Linked DNA regions of Homo sapiens: region 1 is linked to region 2. Evidence: fine-mapped expression QTL. A gene starts in region 2. The other region holds a variant in brackets. All regions are shown on one strand. Distances are from middle to middle. Region 1 overlaps SP2 (Sp2 transcription factor). Region 2 holds the start of SCRN2 (secernin 2).

What was found. PIP is the estimated chance that this variant, and not a neighbour inherited with it, causes the effect. A credible set is the group of variants that fine-mapping cannot tell apart.
Region 1: its variant is the best candidate, but not a certain one, in a credible set for the expression of SCRN2 in amygdala (GTEx, PIP 0.54).

Annotation. Positions count from the first base shown.
Region 1 is chr17:47,901,511-47,915,275 of GRCh38, forward strand. The region is part of intron 1 of SP2 (Sp2 transcription factor); the gene reads left to right. The region is part of intron 2 of SP2-AS1 (SP2 antisense RNA 1); the gene reads right to left. Among named protein-coding and RNA genes, the nearest start is that of SP2, 12 kb to the left of the region's middle. RefSeq lists enhancers at 1-86, 591-1,094 and a silencer at 2,582-2,775. The variant A/T (reference allele first, on the strand shown) is at 3,484.
Region 2 is chr17:47,838,021-47,848,752 of GRCh38, forward strand. SCRN2 (secernin 2) reads right to left here and starts at 3,253. Exons shown (of 8, transcript NM_138355.4): 1 at 3,188-3,253; 2 at 2,650-2,823; 3 at 2,171-2,352; 4 at 1,424-1,623; 5 at 771-986; 6 at 511-676; 7 at 250-430. The coding sequence starts at 2,823. It overlaps SP6 (Sp6 transcription factor), which reads right to left. Exons shown (of 2, transcript NM_001258248.2): 2 at 6,888-10,466. The coding sequence starts at 10,409. The coding sequence ends at 9,279. RefSeq lists enhancers at 2,722-2,821, 2,725-3,280, 5,103-5,152, 9,097-9,705.

The DNA of each region.
Region 1 (13,765 bases), 65 kb after region 2:
TGCAGTGGTGCTATCCCGGCTCTGCCAATGCATGTCAATGGAGAGAAGCATTAATAATGCATATCAGTTGAGAGAAGCATTGAAATGCAGTAGTACCTGGTGTGTGGTGATGAGAGGCGTGCGCTTTGAAGTTTTTGGCCAGGAGCAGGACTGGACTGCACTGGCCCACATGTGAGGTGACTGGTGGGGTTGAGGGTTCCACCAGGGTCTGGGTCAGCTAAACCCAGCTGTGGAGTGGATCCTGACCTAGTGCCAGGATATGCAAATCTGCAGCTTTTCTCCTTTGGTTCCTAAACTCGCTTTAGGCCCTCCTGCTCTAAAGCCTCCAGGATTTATTCATTCACTTATTCAACAAATATAGATTATTAAGCACCTACCATGTGCCAGGGACTGGGATACATCAGTGAGTAAGGCAGAGAAGTCCCTGCCTTTAGGAAGCTTACATCTTAGTGGGAGACAATTAATAACTAATAGATATTTGTTAGACAGTGAGAAGTGCTAAGGAGGCAAAATGAGGATAAGGTAAAAAAAGGGGGGTGGCAATTTACATAGGGTGATCAGGGAAGGTCTCAATGATAAGGTGACATCCGAGTAAAACCCTGAAGGAGTGGGGAGGAGATTGAGCCTTTTTCTATCTGGGGTGAGGGGAGGAGGGTGAGAACTCAGCAGAGAGAAGAGCAATGCAAAGACCCTCAGCAGGGGCCATACTTGGTATGTTCAGGAACAGCAGGGAGCCAGCATGGCTAAAGCAGTGAGAGAGGGAGAGTGACAGGGCAGGTGAAAGAGGTTAGGTCACACAGGGGCCTTTTGTGTCACAATGGAGATTTTGGCTTTTACTTTGAGTGGGAGATGGGATGGTATTGGGGGCCTCTGAGCAGAGAAATAACATGGTTTCATTTAAGTGTGATGGGTCTTACTCTGGATGTGTTGAGAATAGACTGATGGGGTCAAGGTCAGAAGCACAGCTAGGAGGTTAATCCGTGGGAGACATGATAGAAACCTGGACCTAGGTGATGACAGAGGAGGTGGTAGAAGCAGTCAGATTGGGCATATATTTTGAAGATAGAGTGTTTGCTGTCAAGTGTAGGGTGTGGAAAAAAGATAAGGATAACTCCCAAGGTTTTAAGGCTGAGGAGCTGGAAAGATGAAGTTACTATTCATTCACTGCAGTGGCGAATTTTGAAGGAGTCACAGGATTAGGACAATATCGGGAGCACTGTTTGGGGCTAGTTAGATTTTTGTTTTGTTTTGTTTTGTTTTTTGAGATGTTGTTTTGCTCCTGTCACGCAGGCTGGAGTGCAGTGGCACAATCTTGGCTCACTGCAACCTCCACCTCCCGGGTTCAAGCGATTCTCCTTCCTCAGCCTCCCAAGGAGCTGGGATTACAGGCGGGCACCACCACGCCCGGCTAATTTTTGTATTTTTAGTAGAGACGAGGTTTCGCCATGTTGGCCAGGCTGGTCTCCAACTCCTGACCTCAGGTGATCCACCTGCCTCGGCCGCCCAAAGTGCTGGGATTACAGGCGTGAGCCACAGCGCCCAGCTGGGGCTAGTTAGATTTACGATGCCTATTAATACATCCAAGTGGAGCTATCAGTAGGCAGTTGGATATACCAGTCGAGATAGAAATGTGAGAGTTAAAATTATATAGAATCTGTATCTTACTGGTTTCTAAACCCACGAGACTAGACAAAATCAGCTAGGAAACAGGTGTAGACAGAAGAAAGGTCCTGAGACAGAGTCCTGGGGCAACCCAATCATTTAGAATTTGAGAGGAGAGGAAGAACCAGCAAAGGAGATATGGGAGAAGTTAGCCAGAGACTAGCAAGTGTGTCCTAGAGGCCAAGTAAAGAAAGTGTTTCAAGGAAGAAGAGGCCAGGCGCGGTGGCTCACGCCTGTAATCCCAGCACTTTGGGAGGCCGAGGCGGGCAGATCACTTGAGGTTAGGAGTTCGAGACCAGCCTGGCGAACATGGTGAAACCCCAACTCTATTAAAAATACAAAAAATTAGCCGGGCGTGGTGTCAGGCCCGTGTAATCCCAGCTACCTGGGAGGCTGAGGCAGCAGAATCACTTGAACCGGGGGGCGGAGGTTGCAGCGAGCCAAGACCAAAAGGAAGAGCAATCAACTGTCAGAGCAACACGGATGACGTGGTTTAAGAAGTAGCCATGGCCGGCGCGGTGGCTCACGCCTGTAATCCCAGCACTTTGGGAGGCCGAGGTGGTCGGATCACGAAGTCAGGAGATTGAGACCATCCTGGCCAACATGGTGAAACCCTGTCTGTCTCTACTAAAATACAAAAAATCAGTCGGGCGTGGTGGCACACGCCTGTATTCCCAGCTACTCAGGAGGCTAAGGCAGGGGAATCACTTGAACCCGGGAGACGGAGGTTGCAGTGAGCTGAGATTGTGCCACTGCACTCCAGCCTGGCAACAGAGCGAGACTTTGTCTCAAAAAAAAAAAAGAAGTAGGCCAGGTGCAGTGGCTCATGCCTGTAATCCTAGCACTTTGGGAGGCTGAGACTGGCGGATCACGAGGTCAGGAGATCGAGACCATCCTGGCTAACACAGTGAAACCCTGTCTCTACTAAAAATACAAAAATAAATTAGCCAGGTGTGGTGGCGGGCACCTGTAGTCCCAGCTACTCGGGAGGCTGAGGTAGGAGAATGGCGTGAACCCGGGAGGCGGAGCTTGCAGTGAGCTGAGATTGTGGCACTGCACTCCAGCCTGGGTGACAGTGAGACTCTGTCCCAAAAAAAAAAAAAAAAAAGAAGTAGAAGTAGCCATTAGGTTTTTAGCAACATGGAGGTGTCTGGTGGTGTGAACAGTTTTCGTGGCATGCATGAGGAGGGTGCAGCCTGGTTGGAGCAGGTTTAAGAAAAGCTAGCGGGAGAGAAATTAAGGACAGTAAGTATAGGTAACTCCTGCAAGGAGTTTTGCTTGAAGAGAAGGGGAGACATAATGGATCTTAGCTGATGAGGGAAATTTTAACTTCTTGATGAAATTGTAGACATACCTAAGGGTCATTGCCTGAGGCTGGGGGTCTGAGATGGCGGAGTGGGGGGAGATGGGAGGCTCAGTAAAGGGTTAATGTGGAGACAAGATCTCCATTCCTTACTCACCTTCTTGCTTACTTCGGCCTGTGGCATTAGCAAGCCACGGCCCAGAGTTGTTCTCATTGAAATGAAAGCCATTGAAATTTGTTTTACTGTTAATGGGCTCTTTTACCATGGTTTTAATTTATTTGTTTATTTAAAATTTTTATTATTATTTTTTAAAGACAGGGTCTCACTCTGTCATTCAGGCCAGAGCACAGTGGTGCAATCATGGCTCACTGCAGCCTCGACTTCCTGGACTCAAGCAATCCTCTCGCCTTGGCCTCCTAAGGAGCTGGGACTGCAGGCACACACCACCACACCCAGCTAGTTTGTAAACATTTTTTGTAGAGATGGCATCTTGCTGTATTGCCCAGGCTAGTCTTGA[A/T]CCCCTGGCCTCAAGTGATCCTCCTGTCTCGGCCTCCCAAAGTGCTGGTATTACAGGCATGAGCCACCGTGCCCACCTTATAATAGTTATTATGATTGCTGAGGTTTGCCTCTCATTGAAATATTCAGCACAATTTGGAGTCTTTCACTACCAAGGTTGCTGCTTTCTTCATCCAAATGGATTCTCATACCCCATTTGTGAGCTTTCTTTGAGGTCCAACTTTGTTCTCTAAAACCAGCCAGGGCATGCTTTTCCCTCACCAGCTCTGAATTCTTCCAGGCTAGGCAACTGGAAAAGCCTGGGCTTAGAAACTGCTTTGTTGGCTTACGGCCCAGCTGAGCTGACCAAAATAGCCAAGAGAAAGACTGTTTGCACAGTGTGAAATTCCTCCAGGGGAAATACCATAGCAAAAAGCCAAGAAAGCCAGACCCACGATGGCAGGAACCCACAGGCAAAAAAAGCCGAGTTACCCCCAAGGCCTGGGTTGTGGAGATGGAGCCTAGTTCTCTCCAGAAGAAAAAGCTTCCTAAAGCCTACTGTTGTGGTATTTCTGTAGGCGCGTTTTCTCATTTGCTGGGTCTCAAGAGTAGCATTCTCAGTGAAAGGAACAGTCGAACAGCCTGCAGCCTGGTGGCCAGGGCTCAGAGGTCTCTCTTCCTGTTACGTGCTCTCCCCAAGTCAGGCCTAGAAAGACCGTGGGACAGGGACACACTCCCAGCTCTGTGTTGATGGGACAGTGCCGAAGGGTGCCTGGAGTATGCACTGGCAGGTAGCAGGGTCACCTGCCCCAGATTTGAGGTGGGAGGAGGTCAGGAAAGGCTTTCGCTGAGTGAGAGTATAAATGAGCTCTAAAGGACAGGAGCTGGCCGGGCAAATGGGAGAGAGTGTGCTTCAGGCTCCAAGTGAGACAGGGTGGCGTGTTTTAATTCCAGAAATGAAAAACTGAAGTGTGTGTTGGGAGAGTTGGAAGGGAAAGAGGTCAGGAGGGAGGACCAGGGAGGGACAGGTTGTTCTGGCCTTTATAAGTTTATCACAAGAGCATCAGGGAACAATTGAGGGGGTTAATTAGGAGAGTAGCTGGATGGGATTTGCACTTTAAAAAGAGCCTTCTAACCAAATTGTGGAGGCTGACTAAGGGGGAGGCCAGAGGCCAGGAAGCAGTTTTAGAGGCCGTAGGCAGTATCTCAGGTGGATCATGGTGATGAGGATGGGGAGCCTGGGTACACTATAGGGAGATTTGTCTATGAGGTGGAATCATGAGGACTTGATGATTGGTTGGCAGTGAGGGGGATACTCAGGTTTTGTCCTGATTGGAGATACCAGAAGAGAGGCTGCTTTAACCCAGGATATTCATACAGCCCATAGGCACTGAAGGTGTCCGTGAGCCATGTGCCAGGCCTTGGTGTCTGCAGTTCAGTGGTGTAAACAGACATGGCCCACCCTGGGGAGCCCTCGCATACATTGGGCTCATGATTAGTTAATGAGTGGTGAGTGTTCCCAAAGGAGTTAGCCTCATCTCAGGGGTCCAGAAAGGCCTCTCTGAGGAAATGGCATGCCTGTTACATAATGGCTCTTAAATTATGCTGGGAAAGTCAAACAGCCAGAGACCTGAAGGGTGAGGTCTTAGCTAGTGAAGAGAACAGAAAGAGCTGTAAGCAAGGAAAGACAGCTGCAGACACTGAAGTTTTTCAAGGATCTGGAAGAAGGCCTGTGGTGGCTGAGGGTGAGAAGGCTGGACAAAGAATGGGCAAAGCTGTCGCTCAGTGCCCCAGGTGTCTGTGGCCAGCCCTAATGGAAGACCCACAGAGGGCTGGATGTACAGGTCTAACACGTGGAGCAGAGATCTGGGCCAGACACAGGCCTATGAGTTGGCAGCCTGTGGAAGGTATGTAAAGCCGTGCGAGTAGGCATGGTCACCCAGGGAAAGGGTGCTGGGTGAGGAGAAAGGACAGATGTTGGGGAACATCAGTATTTAAGGGTGGCAAAGGAAGAGGAGCCCACAAGGGGAAGAGGTGGCAGGAGAGGTGGGAGAAAATCCATGGGAATTTTGAGGAAGAGGCACTGGTCAGAGGGGCTATTGGATTGAGCAGCAAGGAGGTCGCTGGTGACCTGGGCAGGTGCAGCATGAGCGCAGTGCCAGGGTGGATGTCCTAATGCTGCCGGGAAATGAGTGAGTAGGGAAGGAGGGAGGGGACGGCAGGGTGCCAGCAGTTTTTCTACCAAGTTTGGCCAAAGGGGTAGGAAGAGAAGGCTGTGCTGGAGGGGACAGGAGGTAGAGGCGGATGATCAGTAGTACATCAAGAGTCTAGAAACTCAGGGGATGCTTTTCTGCTGGTTTTGGAATTAAATTGGTTTCCAATATGGGAAAGGAATGTTGTGTGTGGTCCCATCGGGCACCTGCAACCCCATCCCTATGCCATGCTGCCTTCAAACTTTGTTTGATGCCCCTGGAGTTTTCCATGGAACCTAAGAGAGGTACTATTGCTTGTATAGTAAATAATTGTAAAACTTCACCAGCTTGGGGACTGTTGGGAAAGTTTTAGCCAACCTAACTTAATGAAAAGTCTGAATGATATAACTTTGAAAGCAATGCAGCTTTTTCTTTCAAGAATATGCACTAATCCCACTTACCTATGTTGTTAAGTGTTGGTTTCAGTGACCGGATGTAAACTACTGTTAAAACCAAGTGGCACTATTAAAATGGCGGAAGTGGTATAAAACAATTATTCTGACTAAGGGTCCCTTTGCAATCTTCGAACACCATTTAGGCTCGCTTTAAATAGTATGAAAGAAAAGTTAAGCATAATTTATGTCCAAATTGTATATTTTAAATATAAAGTTCCAAATTAATGAGGTTCTAAAGTGCCTTTGATCATAGTCTTACAGTTAGGTATCTATGCTACCTCTTCTTAACCACTTTTCATTTCCAAACATCAGTGGGAAATGCCTCTCTTTTCCTTTTCGTGGTTAATTCTGTAGTGGCAGGGAGATCGGTCTCTCTTTTGGTTGCCCAGGTCTGCAGCCTGTGGCCATAAAGCTCTGAGTGACGCTAGGAAAGATACTTGCAAACATTGGTTTGAGATCTATAGGAGTATTTCAGGAACCAGCTGGGGAGGAAAATGAAACCAAGCTGAAATGGTGCAACGTCCAGCACTAGCAGTCTGCAGCTTGCTTCAGTAGATTCTGCTTTAACCTCCTAACTGAAGAGTCACTCAGAACCCAGCCCAGTGTCCAAACAGTTTGAGTCCAGGGTAATAAGGACTGCAGAGAGGGAGATGATGAAGAAACGCTAGGCCAGTTTTTATTTCGTCTCATTTCATTTACACTCTGCGCGGATCCTATGTCTCTTGTTTTATAATAGAGGATGTCTAAGAGAGTCATTCACTAATTTTAGCTAAGCAAACCTGAGCCCTGGGGGAGCCTCCTGGGAGAGCCATTGCCTTCCTTTGCAGTTCTGCCAGCAACAAACTCATCTTGTATTTTTATCAGCAACATGGTCTGAGAAGTATAAAAATCTTTTTTTTAACTTATTTTAAATCACTGCACTTTCTTCCAGTGAATAAAAATCTTTTTTTTTTGAGATGGAGTCTTGCTCTTGTCGCCCAGGCTGGAGTACAGTGGCACGATCTTGGCTCATTGCAAAATCCGCCTCCCGGGTTCAAGCGATTCTCCTGCCTCAGCCTCCTGAGTAGTTGGGATTACAGGTGCGCACCACCACACCCAGCTAATTTTTGTAGTTTTAGTAGAGATGGGGTTTCCCCATGTTGGCCAGGCTGGTCTCGAATTCCTGAGCTCAAGTGATCTGCCCGCCTCGGCCTCCCAAAGTGCTGGGATTATAGGTGTGATCCACCGCGCCCGGCCATGAATAAAAATCTTAAAGATCATTTGGTCCAACTTCCCACCCCATCTCAACATCCTGACTCCAGCAGGGACACATGTCCTGCCTCTGGTTAAGTGATTCCAGAGAAGGGAGAACATAGTACCTCAGAAGGCAACTGATTTTCATCTTTTCAAAGTTCTCTCTTGTGTTAACTAAAATCTGCCTCAAAATGTCCACACAGGAGTCTTGGTTCTACCCTTTGAACCCATGTCCCCACTCTGGCACCCTGACCACAACCATTGCTGCTGTCTTCTGAACAAGCTCCAGCTGAAAATCCCCCTTTTAAAATGTCCCTCAGAACAGAACCTGATGCTCCAGATGTGGCCCAAGTGTGTAAACTACAGGAGGATATTATTTTTTTGTTCTATGACTGAACTTTTAGAAATGCAATCCAAAATTGCAGTAGCCTTTTTGGCAGCCATATCTAGATTGTGCTGGCCCCCATTCAGCTTAAAGTCAAAACCTCTGGGGCTTTTCCACATGGCACTATTAGGCTCTTTCTGCCCTATATGCATGTGATTGGTTTTTTAACCTAAGTGGAGGACTTATTTTTTTTAATATACAGACAAGGTTTCACCATGTTGCCCAGGCTGGGCTCAAACACCTGAGCTCAAGTGATCTGCTCACATTGCCCTTCCAAAGTGCTGGGATTACAGGCTTGAGCCACTGCACCTGGCCAGGACTTATTAAACTTTAAAGCCATATATGCCTTTAAACCCTCGATGCAGTGATATAAATTATTAGAGCCTCACAGAAATCCTAGAAGGATGACATTACCTTTGTTTTACAGAGGGCACTAGGAGGAGGCTAAGAGGGACCATCCCACTAATGAACCACACAGTCAGAATCTCATTTAGGTATGGAGCCTGATGTTCTTAAACATTGTACCTACCAGTTTTTTAAGATGTCCTTGAACTCTAATACTAATACCCATTGTGTTTCCAATCCTTCTCACTTTTGTGACATCTGCAAGGTTTTTTTGTTTGTTTTTTGATACCGAGTCTTGCTCTGTTACCCAGGCTGGAGTGCAGTGGCACCATCTCGGCTCACTGCAAGCTCTGCCTCCAAAGTTCAAACAATTCTCCTGCTTCAGCCTCCCAAGTAGCTGGGAGTACAGGCATGCGCCACCACACCCGGCTAATTTTTTTGTATTTTTAGTAGAGACAGGATTTCACCATGTTGGCCAGGCTGGTATGAACTCCTGATACACCTGCCTCAACCTCCCAAAGTGCTGGGATTACAGGCGTGAGCCACCACGCCTGGCCAACATCTGCAAGTTTTACTTGTCGTCTAGATCTTTGCCAAACTTGGGTGGTGAATACCATTCTAAAGCCTAAGTTTTCCAGCCTGTAGGGCACAAAACCAATTTAGTGGGTCACAGCCAGCATTTAAAAAAACAAAACAGAATAGAAAAATATCACGGTCCGTCACATGTAATAAGGGAGTTTTGTTTCAGGAAACTTTCATTGCATGAGCATGGGACAGAAATGTGTGGTGTATGTATGCATATGGTGGGTCTTGATGCAAATTGTTTCTGTAACTGTGGTTCGTGGTCTGATAGTTTGAACACTACCACTCTAAAGGAAAAATGGTTTGGGTTGGCTTAGATTATTTTCATTATAATATTACAACTTAATTTTATATGAACATGAATCTGTGTGTCAGCTCATTGATCTAGCTCCTATAAAGTTCACACATGTAACTACAAAAAAAGCCAGTAAAATTCAAATTATCAGCATCATTCTGAGAGGGTGATGTTTGACTGAACCCAAATCATTGCTTTTCCTTGTAAGCATGGCACAGACTTGACACTTAGGCTCCTTGAGTTCTGCACACCCATCCTGTAGCGTGTCAGTCAGAGTAATACAGTCTTTCCACTGCTTCTAAAGTTATGTCATCTTTCACTTTGCACAGATGTATCGTGAACTAAATGTGCAGAATGAAGTTGTCCTAATTAGCCCACACAGTGCACTTGTAAACACACACACAGGCCCTGAAATGTGCAGGACTTGGTTATGCAGCAGTTACCTGGTGATCTATGGTATATGTTCATTTTTAAAAAGATGATTGGGCTGGGTGTGGTGGTTCATGCCTGTAATCCCAGCACTTTTGGAGGTGGAAGCAATGGGATTGCTTGAGCCCAGGAGTTCGAGAAAAGGCAGGGTAACATGGCGAAACCCCGTCTCTAGAAAATACATAAAAATTAGCCGGGTGTGGTGGTGTGCACCAGTGGTCCCAGCTACTTGGGGGGCTGAGGTGGGAGGATCACATGAGCCCAGGAGGCAGAGGTTGCGGTGAGCCGAGATCACGCCACTGCTCTCCAGCCAGGGTGATAGAGCAAGACCTTGTTTCTAAATAAATAAACAAACAAATAAATCTTTGTTTTGGCTGGTCATGGTGATTCATGCCTGTAATCCCAGCGCTTTGGGAGGCCAAGGTGGGTGGATCACTTGAGGTCAGGAGTTTGAGACCAGCCTGGTTAACAAGGCAAAACCCCGTCTCTACTAAAAATACAAAAAAAATTAGCCGGATGTAGTGGTGGGTGCCTGTAATCCCAGCTACTTGGGAGGCAGAGGTTGCAGTGAACCAAGATCATGCACCCCAGCCTGGGCAACAGAGTGAGACTACATCTCAAAAAAAAAAAAAAAAGATTGGCCGGGCACAGTGGCTCACGCCTGTAATCCCAGCACTTTGGGAGGCCAAGGCAGGCGGATCACGAGGTCAGGAGCTCGAGACCATTCTGGCTAACATGAAACCCCCTCTCTTACTAAAAATACAAAAAATTAGCCGGGCGTGGTGGCGGGCATCTGTAGTCCCACTACTTGGGAGGCTGAGGCAGGAGAATGGCGTGAACCCGGGAGGCGGAGCTTGCAGTGAGCAGAGATCGTGTCACCGCACTCCAACCTGGGCGACAGAGCGAGACTCCGTCTCAAAAAAAAAAAAAAAAATCACAGTGAAAACACACAAGAAAAGAATAAAAAGGCCTCTGCGGAGATGCCTGTGAACCCTGGTCCTGAGACCCACCCCAGTTCGAGACACTTTGCAGCAGCAGACTTCTCAGCACTTAGGTGGAGGCATGCTCAGCTTAGCCCCAGACAAACTAGACTATCATATTGCCCAAGTTTCCTCCTTGTTTGTTCACAAGAATATTATGAAAATGTCAGCCAGATGCCTGTTGAAATAAAATACCTGGTGTATACCATGCTCTTGATGTATCCATCCAAAACCCTACAAAAAAGAAACAGATTTGTTCAGCATGACCTGTTCTTCTATATTATAATGCTATTCCTTGTGGTCACTCCTTCCTTTCCTCAGTAGTTAACAGTACTATTCAATCATTTGTCCTAGGATTTTGCCAAGAATCAGTGCCTGTAATATTACGGGATCTGCATATATAATTTTGCCCAGAGCTGCCCTCCAGCTCCATACACATTTGCAGGTGTGTCTGCAAAGTCTCCCCTCCTCTGGAGTATAGTTTGTGTGGACTTCAGGCCTGGTAACCATTTAAGGCACTGGTGTGCTTTCTTACCAGCTCATCACCTATCCAGGGCTTCAGTTTCCACTTCACCTTTTTTTTTTTTTTTTTATGGAGATGGGATCTTGCTCCATCACCCAGGCTGGAGTGCAGTGGTGTGATCACGACTCACTGTAGCCTTGACCTCTCAGGTTCAAGCGATCCTCCCACCTCAGCCTTCCAAGTAACTGGGACCATAGGCATGTGCCACCATGTCCAGCTAATTTTTAAATTTTTTGTACAGATGGGGTCTCCCTATGTTGCCCAGGCTGGTCTCAAATTCCTGGCCTCAAGCAATCCTCCCACTTCACCTTCCCGAAGTGTTGGAATTATAGGCACGAGTCACTGCATCCCGTGCCTTCACCTTTTCTTTACTTTTCCCCATTTAAGAATTGTTCTTCCAAACAGAGAAGCCTGAGGCCAGCCAAAATGTGAACGGTTCTGCTTTCCCAATATGTATCCTTTTGTTTGTTTGTTTGTTTGTTTGTTTTTGAGACACAGTCTCACTCTTGCCCAGGCTGGAGTGCAGTGGTACGATCTCAGCTCACTGCAACCTCCACCTCCTGGGTTCAAATGATTCTCCTGCCTCAGCCTCCTGTGTAGCTGGGATTACGGGCACCTGCCACCACGCCCTGCTAATTTTTTGTCTTTTTAGTAGAGATGGGGTTTCACCATGTTGCCCAGGCTGGTCTCTAACTCCTGAGCTCAGGCAATCTGCCTGCCTCAGCCTCCCAAAGTGCTAGGATTACAGGCGTGAACCACCACACCCAGCCCAATATCTATCCTCTTTTTGCCAAATTCCTTACAAGGACTCAACCCCTGCGCCTTTTTGTTTGTTTTTTTTTTAAGAGATGGGGTCTTGCTATGTTGCCCAGGCAGGAGTGTTTTGGCTATTCACAGGTGTGATAATAGGGCACTGCAGCCTCAAATTCCTGGCCTCAAGTGATCCTTCCATCTCAGCCTTCCAAGCAGAATGCATCCTGAGCCTTTTTGTCTCTTTTAGTCTTTAAAGTAATACCCCTCTTATTTCTGTACTTACTGAAATCTGCTTTCCAGAGGTCCAGGATTGAAGTCTGACTCTGCCTGGTGTTCTTTTCCTTAGTGATTTATGCACTTTAAGATGGTATAGATTCTTTCTCCTAAAATTCTCATGACTTTCGTTTTCCTGATACTGTGTTTCTTTCTTTTTAAAAAATTTTTATTAGGGACGGGGTCTAACTGTGTTGCTTAGGCTGGTCTTGAACTCCTGGGTTCAAGCGATCTTCCCACCTCGGCTTCCCAAAGTGTTAGGATTACATGCATGAGCTACTGTACCTAGCCTCTTTTGGATGACTTAAGTGCACAGTAGAGAGTCCCTTCATTACTTCCTCAACCTTATTTTTCTTTATTTAAGAAAAAAAGTACAGTAGAATATATTTATCATGGGAAAATGAAAAAGTACAGAAAACCAAGGTGCAAAATAAGTTTAAGTCAAACAAAACTCAACCGCTAGGAGATAATGGCTTAAGACTTTTTCCTATTTGATTATATTCATATATAGAAATATATACACATTTAAACAAAAATAGAATTTACTCTGTTTTCATTCTCCTTGTTATATCCAGTTAGTCATTAGCTCTACTGAGTCTTGGTTGATGCCTGTGGGGCCGTGCCTATTGTACTATGTAAAAGCGTAAATTCAAGTAAAGAATTGACCCATGAGGCCAGGGATGGTGGCTCACGCCTGTAATCCCAACACTTTGGGAGACTGAGGCAGGTGGATCACCTGAGGTCAGGAGTTTGAGAACAGCCTGACCAACATGGTGAAACCCTGTCTCTACTAAAAATACAAAAATTAGCTGGGCATGGTGGTACATGCCTGTAATCCTAGCTACTCAGGAGGCTGAGACAGGAGAATCACTTGAACCTGGGAGGTGGAGGTTGCAATGAGCCAGGATCGTGCCATTGCACTCCAGCCTGGGCAACAAGAGTGAAACTCCTTCTCAAAAAAAAAAAAAAAGAATTGACCCATGTGCTGTATATGCTGCCTGGGGACAACGGCCTTTGTGGTGAAGGCTGAGCATAAAACACCCAAGACTTGGCAGTGGAGCAGGTGTGTCCTCCTTGTCAGAAATCTTGGCTGAGCGATACTTCCCTCCCAGTTTTGGCATCTGTCTACAGCAGGAGTGAACAGGAGGCTTGAGTTTGAGCTAGAGGATTAGCTGGGGAGCTCCCCCCTGCCCACCATAGAGGAGTTCCAGTTTAGCTATGGAGAGCCAGCAGTGCCCAGCAGAGAGGGCATAGCTGAGTTACAGAAGAGAGTCCTGGTATAATCTTGGTTATTTTTGTGTTATCTCAGACTCTGTGGTGGCTGGAGGGGGCAGTCCAACGACAGCAGGACCAGCTGTCCTCACAGCCTCAGATGGCTGAGTCTGAGGAGAGGAGAGGAGAAAGTAATCTACTGAAATAGATGTAAGGCTATCAACCCAGGGTGGGTAAGTCTGGGGAAAAGTCATTAACTTCCCTTGGAGAAGCAGCAACAAATAGAGGCAAAAAGAAAATCTGGCTGGGTGCAATGGCTTATGTCTGTAATCCCAGCACTTTGGGAAGCCAAGGCGGGTGGATCACCTGAAGACAGGAATTCGAGATCAGTCTGGACAACATTGTGAAACCTCTGTCTCTACTAAAAATACAAAAATTAGCTGGGCATGGTGGCAGCGCCTGTAATCCCAGCTACTCAGAAGGCTGAGGCAGGAGAATTGCTTGAACTTGGAAGGGGGAGGTTGCCGTGAGCCTAGATCATGCCACTACACTCCAGCCTGGGCAACAAGAGCAAAAATTCCGTCTCAAAAAAAAAAAAATAGAAAAAAAGAAAATCTGAGGCAAGTGGGCTTGCGTTCTTTTTGGGC
Region 2 (10,732 bases):
GAGATGAGTCTGTCCGGGACAGGCTTCCCGCCAGGTGAAGGGGGGACTGTGTACCACCTCACACAAGCAGGAGAAAGGAGATACCCCCCGACATTCCCCAAAGGCAGTTGCTGGCTTTGAAGGGAGGAACTCCTCTCCCCAGCTCTGAAATCTCTTCCACTCCCTAGTTCCTTCATATTTCCAGAGTCCCACTGGGAGTGGGGGAGGTCTATCATCCCCTCAAGGTAGCCCCTACTCCCTGGGGGATACCTGATCTCTCTCCATCAGCCCCAGGGCTGCCTGGTGTCCACGGTAGAGGGTATGCCGACGATCTACCTGAGTCTGGAATCGGGGCAGGGTCCGAACAGGGTCTTGTGCTCCAAAAGTGGGGGACAGCACCTGGGGGGCCTGGGCCACCCCCATCCCGAAGATGAAAGGTTTGAACACAGACCTAGAGGGGCACAGATGGAAGCACGGAGATATATCAGATCCTCTCTTCTCCCCAGCCTTCCCCACCCTCATTCTTCCCACCTGGATGGGTCTGGCGTGGCGGTAAGAAAGTGCACGCAGGGCTGCGTGGGATCCTGGGGCAGGACAGACACCATGCTGGCCGTGGTGCGAAAGCCTCCCGAGTCCATACAGATACCACTCTCCTTGTCTCTGAGGATGCCCATCATCACCTCTGCCGTGATGCCCCCTGCCAAGGAGTAGAGGGGGAAGCTGTGGGAGGGGAGAGTGGCTGGCACTGCTGTGGCCCTCCTGGCCCCCAGCCCCCTCCACCGTTCACTAACCTTGCCGTTGCCGCAGCAGCTCCCGCCCTGCCTGGAAGCGGGCCTTGGCAGCCTCCATGCGCACAGGCTGCTGGGTCAGGGAGAAGATCTGAGCAAAGTCAAAGGCACCCTGCCCATCCCACCAGCCCTTGGCCTGGGCATGAGTCCGCAGCTCCGGGTGTTGGGCCGAGATGTCCGTGCCAATGCTCAGCTGGTTGGAGATGTTGCGGGCCCCCTCTGTGGAGGAGATCGGGGAGTGGTTCATTTACCATTGAGCATCTATTCTATGCCAGGCACTGGGCGAGGTGCTGAGAACATGGTGGAGAAGAGAACTACCTACCCTCATGGAGCCTACGTTTTGGTGGGGGAGGCAGACAAAATAATCACAGAGATAAATGTAAGCATGCAACTGTGTTGAATGCGATGAAAAAGAAGTACCTGCTTGCATATAAGCAGGAAACCTGACCACCCAGGGAAGTCCAGGAAGGCTTCCCAGAGGAAGCAACAGGCTGTAGCACACGGAAGACTTAACCAAGTGAAGGGGAGGAGAATTCCCAAGTGGGCTCATCTCCCATCTCCCTGGATGTCCTGACAGGCTTGCACCTGGATCGGGCCCCTCCCTGCCCCTACCATCTCTCCCACTTCCCAAAGCTGGGAGAAAGGGAACACCTCACCCTGGATCCTCTGTGCAGCCCAGAGCCTCCCAGCTGTCTCCAGCACCCACGCCTCAGTGCGGTCAGCCAGCAGGAAGGTGCTATGGTAGGAGAATGGCGCAGCATCCTCCAGGCAGTTGCCCCCCTGCCCATAGTGCTCCAGTAACCCTGTGATCACATGCAAGGCCTCCTGGGCAGAGCTGCTCCGTTCCAAAGCCAGCCTGGCAAAAGAGAGGGCCAAGGGACAGAAGGGTGACAGAGGGATCAATGGCTGGTGGCAGAAGCTCCAGGGGACAGAAGAGGCCCGGAGAGGTTTGGTGATAGGCCCAAGTCACACAGCAAATCTGCTGGCACTGATCGTATCAAATGCAATTATGCCAGTGGCTTTCAATGCTCTGGTTCCATGTGCTATGCTTTGAGGGTTCCATGAAAAGGCCTGAAACACAGTTTCAGAGAGAGAAGTGTCCTGAGCCCCTAACCTCTCTCCACCCAGAGCTGCTCCATCCACTATTACTGGTTTTATAAATTGGGACTCTATGTAAGATTTCAACTGAAAATAAATAAATAACCACTGCTCTATTTCTGGGCCAGGAGAGGCCCAAAGGTGGCTGCTGCTGCAGCCTTCTTCACGAAGGCACAAGGGCAAAGTCTGCAGAGAGGAGGAGGCCCCTGTGAACCAGGCTGGGGGAGGGATGGATGGGCCCAGGTCAAAACTCAGCCCCTAGATTTCTGGTGTGTCAGGCAGATGAGGAAGGGCAGGGTCTGCACCTGAGTAGGTCCATGCCCAGCAGGGCTTCCCCCTCCCCAACTGGCTCCTTCGTCCACACAGCCTCGTTGCCAATGCAGACACCATGCTCGTTGGCGCCCATCTCAGCCCCCCATAGCCAAGAAGGACGGCTCAGAATCACAGCGTGCGTCTTCGACACCTGTTCCACTTCAATGTAGGTGCACTGGAGGTGAGGGAGGAGAAAGGAAGCGTCCACTCATAGAGGGGCGGCCCCTCGAGTGTGGCACTCTGCCAATTACCTTATAGATCCCTTTGAGGAAGGTCTCATTCCCATTTTACAGAAGAGGAAACTGAGGTAGACTGAGGCTACATAATGAGCTCAGGTCCAGGTTGGTAGACCTAAAGCTCATGCTCTTCCACTACTTCTGGCAGCCTCCCAGGTGTGGGGAGCAGGGAAGAAGGTCTTAAAAGAATGCAGAGATCTGCCACACCTCCCAGCACCCCATAAAGTCTAACCCACCTGGAGCCGGCTCCCAGGAGTGTGAGTGCCTGCGGGGACAAACACCACCTCCTGCACCTCGTCCCGGGGTCGGTCCGAGTTCTTGGCAAAGATCACAGCCGGGATGGCTGAGGCCGGGGGCACGGAGACAAAGCAGTCGCAGGAACATGGGGAGTCAGGGCTCGACGACGCCATCTGGGGAGAGGCGGGCCTCTCCATAACCCTGGCCACGGCTCAGCCCCGAGGAGCAGCCTACCCCCACACGTGTAAAAGACGCGCAAGGAAGACACCGCCGTGGCTCCTGGACGCTCGGCGCACACACCATGGACGGGTGTGCGGGAACGGAGGTGCCCACCCTCTCCCCAGGCTCCAGGCTTGGGAGTCCGCAGGCGGGCACTCCGGGGGTCCCGCCCCCACTGGGAGTCCCGGCCCTTCGGAGCAGTCGTGGGACCGTCCCCCTCGCTACCCCACCAAGAGTCCTGCGGCCCTGCGCATGCCCAGATACCCGACCCTCTTCTGTCCAACCCTTCTCTCACCCCCAGTACTGTATTCCCCTCACCCTCTCTTCCTCCAAGACCCCAGCTCGGTCCCGGGTGCCACCTCCTCCGCTTCTGGCCAGGGCCGCCCCATTGGGCGGAGACTCTCAGGTGACCTGGAAGGCCTTCGGCCTCGGGGTCGGAGCCGGAACGGAGCCTGCAGCTCCGCCGTTTTCCACCAGGGCGCGCGCCTGCACCACTTCCCGGAGCAGAGCGGCCTTGCGAGTCCCACCTGGCTCCCTGTCCTACCCAGGCGCCCATTTGAGGCCTGACAAAGGCTGCTAACCCCACGGAGTCACTGCGGGGAGCTGGAGCTGGGGGTGGAAAGGATCCCGCGTGAAAAGGGAGACTTTGTCAGAGAAAGGGGACTGCTGGGACATCTGGAGATTAAGGAAGAACCTCAGATACTTGAGTCCTGGTTTGAATCCCAGAGGCGCAATCCCAGGCTGGAGGCGCCTAGGGGAATAAGATACAGAATACGAGAGTGGTGGAGGCTGGGTGCGGGGGGCTCGCACCTGTAATCCCAGCACTCTGGGAGGCGGTGGTGGGAGGATCACTTGAACCCAGGAGTTCAACACCAGCCTGGGTAACACAGCAAGACCTCGCCTCTACAGAAAATATTTTAAAATTAGCTGGGCGTGGTGGTGCGTGCCTCTAGTCCCAGCTGCTCTGAAGGCTGAGGTGGGAGGATCTCTTGAGCCAGAGAGATTGAGGCTGCAGTGAGCCAAGATCACACCGCGGTACTCCAGCCGCGGTGACAGAGCAAGACCCTGTCTCTTAAAATAAATAAATAAGGGAAAGTGTGCACAAAACCCATCTGATCCCAGAGGACCTATCTGTCTGATAGTGCTCAAACCCATAGGAAGATCGCTTTAAAGGGAAATTTAGAACTTTCTAGTTCAAAGATTTGGTGCCTTTACCTGTAGTGAAACTGAAACCACAAAGAAGTCTTGGCCAAAGGTGACACACAGTCATGTGGAGGTACACTCTGATCCCAAATGTTTTGATTTTCAGTTCATTTTTCTCTACAAACCATCTCTCCATAGCCATCATTAAGACAAATGCATCTTACACCCTTTTGCTCTGTGGAGCCCTCCAGAATGGAGAGAGGGGAGATGCTGCAGGTTATCTGCTTCTAGGGGTTGCACTGAATCTATAGATGGCTTTGAGTAGTATGCACATTTTAGCAATAGTAATTCTTCCAATCCGTGAGCATGAAATATCTTTCCATGTCTTTGTGTCTTCTTCAGTTTCTTTCATCAATATCTTATTTTCAGAGTACAGATCTTTCACCTCTTTGGTTAAATTTATTCCTAAATATTTTATTATTTTGGTAGCTATTGTAAATGGGACTATTTTCTTGATTTCTTTTTTGTATAGTTTGTTATTAGTGTATAGGAACACTATTGACTTTTGTACATTGACCTTGTATCCTCTGACTTTACTGTATTTGCTTAACAATTCTAACAGTGGGCCGGGTGTGGTGGCTCATGCCTGTAATCCTAGCACTTTGGGAGGCTGAGGTGGGCGGATCCCCTGAGGTTGGGAGTTCAAGACCAGCCTGGCTCACGTGGAGAAACCCCATCTGTACTAAAAATACAAAATTAGCCAGGCGTGGTGGCACATGCCTGCAATCCCAGCTACTTGGGAAGACTGAGGCAGGAGAATCGATTGAACCTGGGAGGCGGAGGTTGCGGTGAGCTGAGATCGCGCCATTGCACTCCAGCCTGGGCAACAAGAGCAAAACTCCGTCTCAAAAAAAAAAAAAAGAAAGAAAGAAAGAAAGAAAACAATTCTAACAGTGTTTTAGTGGAGTTTGGCCTTCTTTCAAGCCTACTGTGCTAGGGTGCTGGCGGTCAGTCATGCTAGGATTAATGGGAAGGTGAAGGCTGTTTCTGATACAGTGTCGGGGAGGGATTGTGAGGTTGCCAATTAATGTCATTCCAGAAGCAAACATCGAAGCTGCGTGCTGAGAAATCTGGGCACCTGAAGCAGCTTGCAGGAAGGCGGGTTCATCTCCTGCAGTTTCCCGGCTTCCCACTGTGGGGCGGAAACAGGCAGGAGGAGAGGCAGAGAGAGGCCACAGCGCACCCCCAGGTTGCAGTTTCCAGGCTGTCTTCTTCTCTGTCACTTTCTCATTTCTTATTTCATTCACCCACCCTAGAGGTTAGGAGTAGATTCTACTTCCACTTCCCAGGAGAGGAACCCAGAGAGCCAGCCCAGATGTTCTGATTTCCCTAACCCTTTCCTGGGCCATCCATGATCCTCCTGCCAGGCACCCCATCTGAGGGGGGTCAGAGGTGGCTTTGGGTTCCGTCGTGGGGGGGATGGGGGGCAGGCCAGCCAGGCAGCATTTCCAGCAAGGAAGCAAGTGTCAGAGCCCCACCAAAGGCCCCTGCTAAGAATGCAGGTCAGCGGGAGGAGCTGCATGGGGAGGAGGGGTGGCCCCAGCCCTGCCCAGACAGGCCCAGCCGGCCGCACAGCTGCCCTCCTGTCCCTGGGGGCAGCGATGGGGGTAAAGGAGGAGGGGACTCACCAAGTTCCTGGGGTCTAACTCCCCTAGAACCAGGAAGACAAAAGAGGCACCTGGAGGAGTGGGGCTGGCATAAGGTCTTAGGAAAACACACCTGTCCTTCCTCCTCCCAGCCTTCTAAATCTAGCAGCAGGTGGAAACAAAACAATTGGCCCCAAACCAGTCTGGTTTCCTCTACAACCCCTAAATCATTCATTCTGATGCCCCTATCCTAAGGTAGCCATAAAGGTTGTGACCCCAGGATCCCAAATTAAGTTATGGGATGGGCCAGCCTGAGTACCAGATTTGGCTTCGAGAAATTGGGTTAGGGTTAGAGTGGTGGATCTAGAAATCCCACTAGGGGAAAATAATACTTTTGGCAAAAAGGTAGAATGAGAAGGTGAAAGAACATAGTAACCCCCGCCCCCCAGCCCCCTTGGAGCCCAAAACCTATCTTCTGTCAACCTTCCTGGCTTTGGGGCTCTGGAATCATGAGGCTTTCTACTCATTTGATGTGAATTAGGCACCAACTTTGTATCAAGCACTGGGAGGCCTGGGAAGATGTGTACAGATAGATATTTCTGCATATCTCTGGGGGCGGGTGCACGTGGGTCCAGTGCGGGTATGTTTGTGTGCCTTGTGGTTGTGTAACCATGGTGGGTCTCTAGCTGTGAGCTACAGTAGGAGCCTTTCCCTCATACTTTCCAGCTGGGCAGGAGCCCATCAGATAGCTCGGCTGCCTTTCATCGCCTTGTCCCTGATAAGGATCATCCTGGGTGAAGTAATCACTGCCAATCACCCCCAGCTCAGTCACAGGCAGGGGATGGACTGACATGCACCCTCTATGGGGATGGAGTGAGGGAGCCAGTGCCTGGGAAAGAGGGAACCAGTGTTCTTAGCAGGGGAAGGGAAAGAAGGGGCTTGTATGTGGAAGAGGAAAGAGATATCTAGAAACTTCTCATAACCACAGGTATGAGACCAGGGAGGGACAGCCCGGGTACCAACCCAGAGGAAGAACCTCCCTCCTTCTGTACCAGCCACCTCTGGGGCAGGATCAGACCCCAGCTCCAACCCAACTCAATAGACATGAGGCTTTCCAAGGGGCTGCAGGATCACTGGGAAGCATCCACCCCACTCTGTGGCCCAGACCTGGTCCTCACTGCTGAGGGACACTGAGTCAAAAAGGAAACAGAGCTGGAACACAAAGGAAGCATGATGTAGTTGATGACTTTATTGCATAAAAAACACAGGCTGTTTCTCCCTCCTCCTACCCCCTCAAAGTGAGTTCACAGCAGTTAAAGAAAAAATAAATTCCTACATTTTTCCTCTAGGGGGACTGCCTAGAAAGACAGGCAGCCAAGCAGCCTAGATCTATAAAAGAGGGGAGCAGAAGAAAACCTATCCAAAGCCTCTACCCGCATACCTCAGAGCTTGGGGCTTCCATTGGGGGGAGCATCTGTGTCCACCAGCAACACCCATTTGGGAGTTCCCCTTAGGATGGCCACTGGAAAAGGCTGTCTTGGTGGCACAGGGAAGGGGTGGCTGGTTTCGATGGGTGGAGGAGAAAGGCATCTTACACCCACGGTGCCCTTCCTCTTTCCCCCTCTCCACCTGGCCAGGCAACCTGCAGGCACTGCCAAATCTCCTCCTGCCCCCAACCCTCTCAGCAAGGAAGGGGATCTCTGGTTGGGTTAGCAGGAGGTAGGGAAAAGAGAAAGAAAGAAAGAACATTACTTCTTAAACTACCCCAGGCCAATGAGTTCCTCGGGAAGGTCATCCTGTCCCTTTTAAGGAGGGCCCCTTTGTATACAAACACATATTCCCACCCAGATCCCAGCCCCCACTTCCCATATAGCTCCCAGACCTTGGCTGGGCTCCAGCATCTACAAAGGAGGAAGAGATGCTGGGCCCAGATCCCAGGATCTTGGACATGGTGAATAAGATGGGGTCTCCCTGGCTAGAGACCCCAGGCTCAGTAGAGAAACACACATACATGCACACAGGTACACACAACATGCACACACATAACCTAATATTAAATAAAATACCCTTTGCTTATAACTTAAAAATCAATACACAGCTAATCTCTGCAGAGGGCTCCGGGTGAAGAAAGGGAGCGAGGGGAAGGGGGAGGGGTGTCAGAGGGACTGTAAGGCCCCTCTCTTGAGTGTGGGAAAGCCCTCCGGCTGCAAGGGCTGTGGCCTGTCAGACCCTTCCTCATATCAGCTTCTTTCCCCTCTGCCTGGCTCAGCTTCTGCTGGGCTTCTCCCCTCCCTCCTTTCCTCTCTCCCCCACCCCATGATCAGAATCAAAATGTGTTTCTAGCATCTAAAGGAGAAGGGAATGGGGACAGCTTCCTGGATGTCACCTCAGAAGGCAGAACCCCTTCCAGTGGGAGAACAACTCTTTCCTCTCCCTTCCCCTGTGAGATGAGGGGGAGGAAGGAATCCCCTAATGAACATGCTATGGCAGGGGCAAGGGAAAGACAAGGGCCAAGCTAGAGAGACAGTGGGGTTTATTTTCTTGGTGACAGCTAAAGAGATGGTCAGGTAGGCTGCAGGCCTCCACTCTGAGTGGGAACCAGTGGAGGTCCCTCTGATGAGACACCCCCAATCTGCCCTCAACCAGCCCAAGAAACCCTCTTCCTTCCATCCCTGAGGGGAAGGCAACTGGTGGGAACTACATGGATTCTACCGCTGGCTGCCTTGAAAACACACCTAGGGTAATAGATGGGGAATGTGAGACTACTGAACTTTATTTATCATAGACCAAGAATTAAGGGCTGAATCAGAGGTGGAGAGGGAAGGGGTTAGTTCCTTCCATACCCCACCAAATCCCTATCTCTCATTTTAGAAGAGGACTTCCCTACTCGCCCCCTCCATCTATCTCGGTCCTTTATCGCCAGCCCTGGCTGGGAGGCTGTCAGGAATGGCAGCCCTCTTTCCCTCTTCCTTCATGGCTCCAACAGACTGGGTCTGAAAGGGTTAATAAGGAAGCTCATCAAAGGAGTTATTTTTACAGCAACAACCCTCCAAACCAGAAAGAGACACCCCTGCCAAGGGGGACCCCCAGGCTCCCCCATCCCATCTCGGCTCTCCCTCCGGAAACCCTAGGGGCAGAAGCACTTTAAGTGGGATGAAAGGGACCCCGCCGCAGGGCGGCTCCGGAGGCGCTTTTATGTCCTGGTTCCCAGGCGCTAAGGACGTGTCCAGACAGCCACCACCAGCGCCCCGGGCCGGCCCCACTTCTCTCTGCTCCGGGGACTGGGACTTGCTGTCTCCTCTAGCCTGTCCCCGCCAGCCAGCCGCGGTACGGGTGTCCCACCCCAACCCCCCAGCCCAGGGGCGAGGGAAACTGTGAGGCAGGGGAGAACAGAGGGGCATTGCGCAGCTCCTACCGACCCAGTCAAATTCATCCTGCCTAGTAGCCCCAGAGACTAAGAACCCCTAGCGCCCCATCTCCCTGTCCCTGCACCACTTTTCCTCCTCCCTGAATAAATACGCACCTTCCCCTCTTCCTCAAGCCACCCCCAAGGACGTCAGACCTGGGGGCTCGCATCCAGTGCCCCCCGGGATACCCGCAGGGAGGCGGCACTGAGGAGCTCAGTTGGAGGGAGCCACGCTGCCCTCGGCCTCGCGTTTGCCTTTGCCCCCGGGGGGCTCCACTGCGCCGCCGGCCTTGCCCTCTCCCGAGGCCGCCCCAGCCGCCTCCTCCTTGGCGCCCTCGTGGGTTTTCATGTGCTTGGCCAGGTGGTCGCTGCGCATGAAGACGCGGCTGCAGACTGCACAGGGGAACTTCTTGGTGCCGGTGTGGGTCTGGAGGTGGCGCTGCAGCTCGTCCGAGCGCGTGAAGCGCTTGCCGCAGAAGAGCCAGTTGCACACGAAGGGACGGTCGCCGCTGTGCCAGCGCAGGTGCGCCTTCAGGTGCGACGTCTTGGCGTAGGCTTTCCCGCAGCCCGGGATGTGGCAGTTGTGCAAATGCTTCTTCTTGCCCCCATCGGGCCCACATGGAGCCCCCAGTCGCTCCGCCTCCAGACAGTTGGGGCAGCGACAGACGGTCTGGCCTGAGCTGCGGGGCACCGACCGCCGGGAGCCTTTGGGACGCGCCGCCCCGTCCAGGCTGGAATCCAGCCCTTGAGACTCCGGGGCGGCTACTTCCAAGGCCTTAGCCCCGTCGGGCGGCCCTAGGAGATGCTGCCCTCCGGCAGCTGGAAGGAGGTGGTGCGCATGCGGGTGGGGTGGCGGGGCACAAAGCTGGTGGTCTCCGACGTAGCCCCCCAAGCCCGCCTGAAGCGCCCCCGGGTGGCCAGGTGAGGTCAGCGCGCCCTGAGTGTGGGGGAGGTCCATCCAGCTGGTGCCCGGATGAAGGTCCCACCACGAGCCATCCTCCGCGCCTGGGTGAGTCGGCCTGAACCACGATTCATAATGGTGTGACATGTCCGGCTGCAGGAGCTTGGAAAAGGGGCCCGGGGCCAAGGGACTGTCGCTTTCCAGGTCCTCGCAGGTTACCCGCGAGGAGGCCCCTGGCAGCTCATAGCCCTGCGAGAAGTCCACCTCCGGGCCCAGCGGGAGGCTCTGCAGCTCTCCAGGCTGCAGCGGGGAGGGGTAGTCCCCGGCCTCAGGGCTCGTGTGGCCCTGGTAAGTTTGGAGAGGCTGCAGGTCGAGGCGCGGCGGGGAGGCGTGCGGCGCTTCCGTGTGCTGGCTGCCCAGAGAGCCGCAGACAGCGGTTAGCATTGCCGGGATCCGGGGTGGGGTGAGGGCAGGGACGGTCAGGGGCACCTCAGACGGGACCTAAAGGAGGCGAAGAAGCAGAAAAGTAAGGGAAATAACCAGCTCACTTTCCCTCCTAACCCAGGTCCTCCTCTCTGGCCCCAGGTGTAAAAGAAGGATGCACCTCTGAACGAGGACTAGAGATGAGTTTAGAGAATTCGGGAGTGCGAGGAAGGGTCCAAGATGTGAGGTTCTCATCCAAGCACAGAGGATGATGGAGGTCTACCTTCCTCTGGGTGATCCCTGCCGTATGACCCAGCTCATCCCTAGAGTTGGGCCACTCCCAG